2 linked regions of the Homo sapiens genome follow. The protein of the gene in region 1 purifies or fractionates together with the protein of each later gene. This does not show direct contact. Each region holds a gene or a part of one and is shown in the gene's direction. Other genes may lie near its edges.

Region 1 (4,054 bases):
GATTGTGCTTTTCTTGTCAAGTCTAAGAACTCTTTGCCTGCCCTAGATCTTGAAGAGTGTCTCCCATGTTTTTCTCTAGAAAGTTTTATTGTTTTATATTTAAGTTCATGATCCATTTTGAATTAACTTTGGTATAAAGTCTGAGACTTAGGTCAAGGTTCTTTTTTTTGCCTAAAAATGTGCAATTGCTCCGGCACCATTTGTTGTAAAGGCTGTCTTTCCTCCACTGAATTCCTTTTGCACTTTTGTCAAAAATAAGTTGGGCATATTTGCAAAGGTCTATTTTTGGGTTCTCTGTTCTGTTCCATCAATCTATGTGTCTATCCTTCTGCCAATACCACATAGTCTGGAGTTTCCTCATAACTGCAGTTATGTAATGAGTCTTGAACTTGTGTAGACTGATTCCTTCCACTTTATTCTTTTCCAAAATTGTTTTATCTATTCTAGTTGCTTTCCCTTTTCACATAAGTTTTAGAATAATTTTATCTATATCTATAAAAAATCTTGTGAGATTTTGATAGAAATTGCATTGAATCTGTATATGAATTCAGAGAGAATCAACGTTTTTACTATATTGAGTCTTCCAATCCATGAATACAGTATGTTTCTCCATTTATTTGCTATTCTTCAGTTTCTTTCTTTGGCATTTTGTAATTGTCAGCAGTTCTTTTTGCTCTGCCATGAACTAATTGTGTCGCCTTGGACATTAGTCTTTCAGACCTTCAGTTCTCTTTCTGTAAAATGTGTCTAATAACACCTACCTTGAAATGCCATGGGAAAGTCAAATAAGTTAGCGCATGAGCAGTGCCCCATGGCAAGCGCCAAGATGCAGTTCCCTTCAGCTGGGTCTCTCATCTGTTCTTTGTTTCCTCCTCCTCAGCTTTCGTTCTAATGCCCACATCCACTTACACTTCACTTTGTCTTTCCTTTTTGTCCTTTGCTTTTTTAAATCCTTCTTTCATTCTCAACTCCTTACTCTGATTTTTCTATTTCTTTCTTTCTTTCTTTTTTTTAGACAGAGTCTCACTCTGTCACCCAGGCTGGAGTTCAGTGGCGCAATCTCGGCTCACTGCCAACCTCTGCTGTCTGCGATTCTCATACCTTAGCCTCCCGAATAGCTGGGACTACAGGAACTCACCACCACGCCCAGCTCATTTTTTTTGTATTTTTAGTAGAGATGGAGTTTCACCATGTTCGCTACGCTGTTCTCGAACTCCTGACCCCAGGTAATCCGCCTGCCTTGGCCTCCCACAGTTCTGGGATTACAGGCGTGAGCCGCCGTGCCTGGCCTTTCCTATTTCTTTCACTTTGTTTTTCTCTTATTCTCAATGGATTTTTCTGTTTCATTTCTTACCCCATGATATTTGTCTATCTCCTCTTTCTTGAATCATTTAAGCATTCCATTTTTGTGGAGTTGCTCAGACACTGAGTGTGAGTCAAGGGCCACTCAGCCTGGGTTCAACTCCAGATCAACCACTTACTAGATTTGGGGCAGTTGACTCACCCTCCTGCACCTCAGTTTTCTCATCTATAAAATGGGGAGAACAGTATCTACCTGGTACCTTTTCTGAAATGATTAAATGAGTTTATACATGTAAAGCATTTGGAATAAAATTGGGTATATGGTACAGCCCCAGTAGGTGACGATAATTACTGGGATTTTACCTGTTATGTCCAGTTTCTGTGGCTCTTTCTCACATTTACCATCCCTCACCATCTCATCCTTTTCACTTGTATATGAATATATTCAAACTCACATTATCTTGCTTTCAGGCTGTTGTCTCTGTGCACTTCTACCTCATCTTCCCTAATCATCACTGATAAATTGGCACCAGCCCAGGAAATCTGTCCCTTGGGTTATAGACAGGAAACAAGTGGTTTTTCATTTTGATTTAATTATTAATCCCTTTTATTATTTAATGTGGAATACATACACTGTGGGGTTACAATGAAGAAAATGGATTATCACTGTGCGGCTCACTTTCAAAGAGATGGCAGGCTTAAAAAGGAAAAGTACCAGACAGACAGAAACAAACGTGGGGAAAAAGCAAAATTAATTAATTTGATTTCCGTGCCCTTTTCATGGCCATGACTTTTCATACATCTTCTGTGAGATCCAGGAGGATGCATGTGGATTTTGCAAGTAAGCCAAGCGAGGTATTAAAGGGAAGGGGTGTAAGGAGTGGCGAGTGGCCCACAGTGGCTCACCAGGGAGGGCAGAAAAATATTCATCCTAAGCAAATGGGAGCCTGGCAGGTTGGGAAACTCAGTCACAAGCTCACGGGCCTGCTCCATACGTACAGTCCTCAATAATGGGCTTGGTCTGTGATGCAAAGCTACCTGAAAGGCACTCACCTATCACTAACCCTTTCGAATCTATATTCCATACCTTGAATCGGGCCTAATATCTGCCCTTTAAAAAATTGCTGAATATATTTAGACTCACTTAGATACACTGGGCAGAGGGATATTTTAAATACCATCAAAATGGTCTTTTTGTCTCTGTATTTTCTCCAAAGAATTGAACTCCCCAAGCAAAATGCCAGATCTGCCTGCGCTCCTTTCAGACTAGAATTCTGTCTCCCTTTAAAGATCCTTACATGAAACACCATTTAATCCTTCTCTCTCTGCCTTTTTGTGTTTATGGTGACCTCTCAGTATTTTGGTTTCTTTAATGACAAAGTAACCATGGAATTAGTCCACAGCATTTCTAGGGTACGTGTTTCTCTCCAGATATCAAAAAATAATGCATGAGGTTTTATTACTTCCTTAGGCTTGTGGTGGGGAATCCTCCAAGGATGGAGTTAAAATGAACAGCCAATACTCTCTCGCTCCTCTGGGCTACCCGAGGCTCTGCAGGCCCCAAACTCACCTTCTGTTGCCCCATTCAGCACCAGCCACCCCCCTTTGTTGTGCAGCCAGAAGCCAGGGCCGCCTGGCAGGCCTATTGCTAAATCTCCCAGTGTTTGTATTACATAAAACTTCACAGTCGGTGTTTCTGTGTCTACAATGCCAGAATCCTGGAAATGAGTTAACCCAAATTTGTGTGCCTTCTGGCAAGCCCAACTATCCAACTACAAAAGGGGACTAATGTGATAGGATTCTCCTGAGCCAACACAGGAGTTGAAAGAGCCCAACAGAGGTGCAAACTGCCATTATGATTCCATGATAATAATTCCACATACTAGGAATACCGGGATTATTTCAGACCTTATATCTGCTCTTAACCTATACCAATCCAATCCAGGGGGGCCAAGTACATTATACCAGTATTTGGTAGGATAGAATTTTTCCTGATAAAATGGCAGAGATGTCATGAACATTAGGATTTCCACAAATATTTCTATTTCTTATATAGGAAAGAGACCCAGGGTGGTAACCTGTAGAGTAACATGTAATGTGGAGCATAGGATGTGGCCAGGAGAGTCAGGGTTATGATTCAGAACCAAGATGGCTGGACTCAAATGGGTGTGAAGTAGGAGGGTGGGAAAGCGTGGGTTCTGAAGTCAGGCCGCTGTCAGTTCAAACCCAGGTTCTGCTGCTTGCAAGCCATGTGGTCTCTGGCAAGTTCCCTCCCTGCTCTGAATCTCAGTCTCCTGATCTGAATAATGGACACATTACACTTATTCCACAGTGTTGCTGAGCTGATCAAGTGTGTTAACACGTGTAAGGCACCCAGTCCAGAGTAGTGCACGCAAACACACACACACACACTTCACTTCCAGAGCTGTTCTGCAAAGAAAAACCAAAAGGCAGTACAAGCTGCTGCAGGCAATGAATTGATGACGTGTTTAAAACAAAAGCAAAAAGAGTGCAAAGGCCATGGAGAATGCGGCACAGACAGGAAAGATGCTCCCTAAAGAGCTTGCCCAGGTCAGGATGTCTCCGAGCAAAACGAGGGACACTGAGTGACTCTGGGAGCAACCTCAGTCCTGCATCCTCGTCAACACCCTGACTGTTCTCAACAATAATCCCACCCATGTGGGGAGCTCCCCTTTGAGGGACTGAGGCAGCCCAGAAAGGAGGCACAGGATGTACTGAGAAGGGGAAACCT
Region 2 (3,923 bases), on another chromosome or scaffold:
ACTGGAATGTATCTATTATATATTTTTTGGGATTAAAAAACATAAAAATAACACATGAGCTCCTTGAAGGAAGAAAGGTGCATAGTAAATGTTTAGTGGATTTTATGTATTCAATTTATTTAAAATTAAAAATTCAAAAGGTATGTAAGAATGTACAATGAAGTTTTCCCTTTTGCTTTTGTCCCAAGCTAGTTTTCCTCCTCTTTAAGGCAGTGATTGCCATCTGTTTTTTGTGTATGTTTCCAGAGAGATTTTATGTGTTATTGATTTCTATTTGGGTAAAAAGCGGGTCATTGCATTCCGTTGTTCTCTAGAAAGTCCATACTCAGTCCTATATCCATAGCAATTGGGCTGGTGTGTTTTTTTTCTTCTTCTTCTTTTACATTTACATTTTTATAGTCTCTCATAAAATGGCTTTTTTTTTTTTTTGAGACAATCTCTCTGTTATCTAGGCTGGAGTGCAGTGGCATGATCATAGCTCACTGCAGCCTCCAATTCCTGGCCTCAAGCAATCCTTCTACCTCAGCCTCATGAGTAGTTGGGATAACAGGCATGAGCCAGCTTGGCTGCATGTTTTTGAAAATAGGTACCCACTCTTAAATCTGTTTTTCAGGCTCAGTAGTAGTGGTTTAACTTTTAAGATTTCCAGTAATTAGATAAATTACTTGAAGCACTCCTAGTATTTTTTCGTATTTCAGACATTAACTCTCCCAGCTGTTTATTTTTTTACTTTCGTGTTTTAATAACCCTCTATGACTTTAATTTCAAGAACTGAAGCATTCTCCTTTAAGGGATAAAGTATTTTATTTTGATCATTTATGGGGAAGTACCTCTAAAGGATGCATTATATATGTTCTTTCTTTGGTAGTTTAACTTTTTCCTACTGACTTAGGGTTATGAAATATTCATTGTTTTGGGTGATTCTGCTATAGAGTACTAGAATGTAAGTTTCTACTCAAAGTGGTCCAAGAGTTTTAGAATTATGTTTTATTTCTTAAGTACTTCCCTCACTTGCAGCCATTCTTTCTTCTTTTCATTTTTGTTTGATCTCTGCCCTGTAGGCACCCAACCTATTTGTTGTTTTTCTTTGTGGTTAGAAATTTCATGTCCAGATTTTATACAAATGAATTTTCAGTTCTGATTGCAGTGAATATTTTACTCATATAGATTTTATTTAATTAATTAATTTATTTTGAGATGAGGTCTTACTCTGTCACCCGGCTGGAGTGCAGTGGCACGATCTTGGCGCATTGCAACCTTTCCTTCCCAGGTTCAAGCGATACTTCTGCCTCAGCCGCCTGAGTAGCTGGGATTACAGGTGCCCGCCACCATGCCCAGCTGATTTTTTGTATTTTTAGTAGAGGCGGGGTTTCACCAGGTTGGCCAGGCTGGTCTCGAACTCCTGACCTCAAGTGATCCACCCACCTCGGCCTCCCAAAGTGCTGGTTGGTATTACAGGTGTGAGCCATCGTGCCCAGCCTCACATAGATTTTTAATGTGTTTGGTTTCTGATTTATTTTTGAGACTCGAATTTTTTTTTTTCTTTAGGGTTCTAATTCAGTCTTCAGATAACTGAAGTTAGATAGCCATTTCTATGCGATTGGTAGTGGTTATTGTTTTCAAATTGAAAACAGCTTTATTGTTAAGACTATAAAAGAATAATATGTCATTGTAAAATATCCAAACCATACAGAACTTTATAAAGAAGAAAGTAAAAATTACTTAGAATTTTCTCATGCAGAGATATGGCTAATCAAATTTTGGTAACTGTCCTTTTAAGTGATTCTATACCATAAATATTTTGATGCTGAATTTTCTCTTTGTTATGATACTAAATTTCAGAATTTTTAAGTGATGCTCAATGTATAATGATTCGTTTATAATTTAAAATTCTTTATCTTTTCATAACCGTAGTATACCTAAATATATTACATATTAACATACACATATTGAAATAAATTATATATAGAACTGCAACTTTATAGTTTTTTTTCTAAGACCTGGATAATGGCAACGAGAGTAGCATTTTTAGAGATTTCAGAGGTAGAATCTGAGGATGGAGAAGAATGGCAGGATAAGACTAACTTTAAGGTATTTGCTTTTGAGTGACTAGTCACTGACAGAATTAGCCCATATCGGGGAAAACAGGATGATCAGCACTCTCCTGTTAACGTTCTAGACAGTTGGGGGCCATTTATCTTGAAACATTATCTTGTAGTAATTTGCATTCACATTGATAGTAGAAGCTGACGTTTTCTTTGGACAACTCTTTTTTTCAGGTTTCCTCAAGCATCTGCTTCCTACATATTACTACAATTTGCACAGTATGGGAATATCTTAAAACATGTGGTAAGGCTTAATTTTTTTCAGTTCAGAGTTTTGACTAAAGAGGGATAAGTTGTGAATTGAGAGAAACTGCTTCTGAATTTTGTGGGTTTTTTTTAAACTTAAATTTTTTTTTGAGTTTTGATATAATACATCCTTTGAAGTCTGGAAGGCTGGAAGTTGCCTAATTTTTGATAAAAAGAGATATAGTGAGAAGATATGGAGAATTGAGAGTTTGAAAATCCACCTCCTCTCACCTCCTTTCTTAAACAGTTTACAGTCTTAAAAAAGATAGATTATGCCAAGTATTATATTACTGTTTTCCAATTTGAGCTGCTTTTATTGGGGATAAAAGAAGTAGGAGGCAGTTCCTGAGCTTTTAGAGTTTTTAGAGCTTTATAGCTCTAAAATTTAAAAAATTATCTTACCTTGTGCTACAAGTTATAAGTAACAAATCCTTTTTTGTTGCTAGAGATTGACTTAACTCCTATACAAAATCAAATTGAGTAGTTTTAAATAACTTTATGGCAAGTGTTGCTTTGATCTCTTTACAATAAACATATTTTGAGAAGTATCTTACTTTCAGAGAATATGTACATGTTGATTGTAGAGAATTGAGAGATTGTTGAAGCTGTTCTAAATACGATTTTTGTTGAACTTTACAGCTTTTTACAAGGCATCAAATACGGAATGGAAGTAAATTTATCTTACCATGTTCCTATTTTCTAGTAGAATTCATTAGATGTAGATTTTATATATTTTCTATTTTAAGAGACAGTTTTATTCTTTGCAGATGTCTAATACAGGAAATTGGATGCATATTCGTTATCAATCTAAACTGCAGGCTCGGAAAGCCTTAAGCAAAGATGGGAGGATTTTTGGAGAATCCATCATGATTGGTGTAAAACCATGTATTGACAAAGTAAGTTATTGGTGATGTAGGCAAAGTAGCTTAATCTATATGAAGAGCACAAGACCAAGGATTGAAATTGGTCGTTGTGTCACTTGGTTTCACTGTGTCTGTTTTTCTTAGTTTGTAAAATGTGATGATGTTTATAGTACTCTTTGTGGTAAGCCGAAGGTATTTAATCATAGAGTTTAGAATTTAGAGGTAATCTGTCCTCACCTCTTCATTTTTCAGATAAAGAAACTGAGAGGGCTTAAGTAACTTGTCCAGAGTTGTTAAAGGTGAGGCCTAGATTTTAGGTCTCTTGACTACTAATCCATTCTCTTTCTTGTGCAAAGCGATACCAGATTCTTTAAAGTACTTAAATGGAATGGTACTATTTCAGAATGAATTAGTTCATATTAACATTAACTGATAGTTAACTTTTAAATGTCAAAGGTTTTCGTTTCAAAATATTTCTGTTTAAAACTATTTTAAAATTATTCTATATATACTCATTAAATAGTACAGAGTACAATTTAAACTGTTCTTTGTGGCTTGTTAAATCATTGTGAACATTCTTTAAGTATATGTGAACTTGTACTACATTCCAGGCATTGTGCTTGGTGCTAGTATACACACATTAATGAACAAAGCAAGATGTGGTTCCTATTCTTAAAATCTGTTATATCAGTGTAGTTATATAGTTATA

What was found. Proteins that work in one complex are often made in the same cells at the same time.
Region 2: the proteins of KCNJ5 (region 1) and NUP35 purify together in Homo sapiens (affinity purification with mass spectrometry; 2 studies listed by BioGRID and IntAct, with this or other methods). This does not show direct contact.

Annotation. Positions count from the first base shown.
Region 1 is NC_000011.10:128,897,690-128,901,743, forward strand, and holds part of KCNJ5 (G protein-activated inward rectifier potassium channel 4), read left to right. Parts: intron 1-1,875; exon of another isoform or gene 1,876-4,054. UniProt on the Homo sapiens protein: Inward rectifier potassium channels are characterized by a greater tendency to allow potassium to flow into the cell rather than out of it.
Region 2 is NC_000002.12:183,155,165-183,159,087, forward strand, and holds part of NUP35 (nucleoporin NUP35), read left to right. Parts: intron 1-2,279; coding exon 2,280-2,349; intron 2,350-3,118; coding exon 3,119-3,247; intron 3,248-3,923. UniProt on the Homo sapiens protein: Functions as a component of the nuclear pore complex (NPC).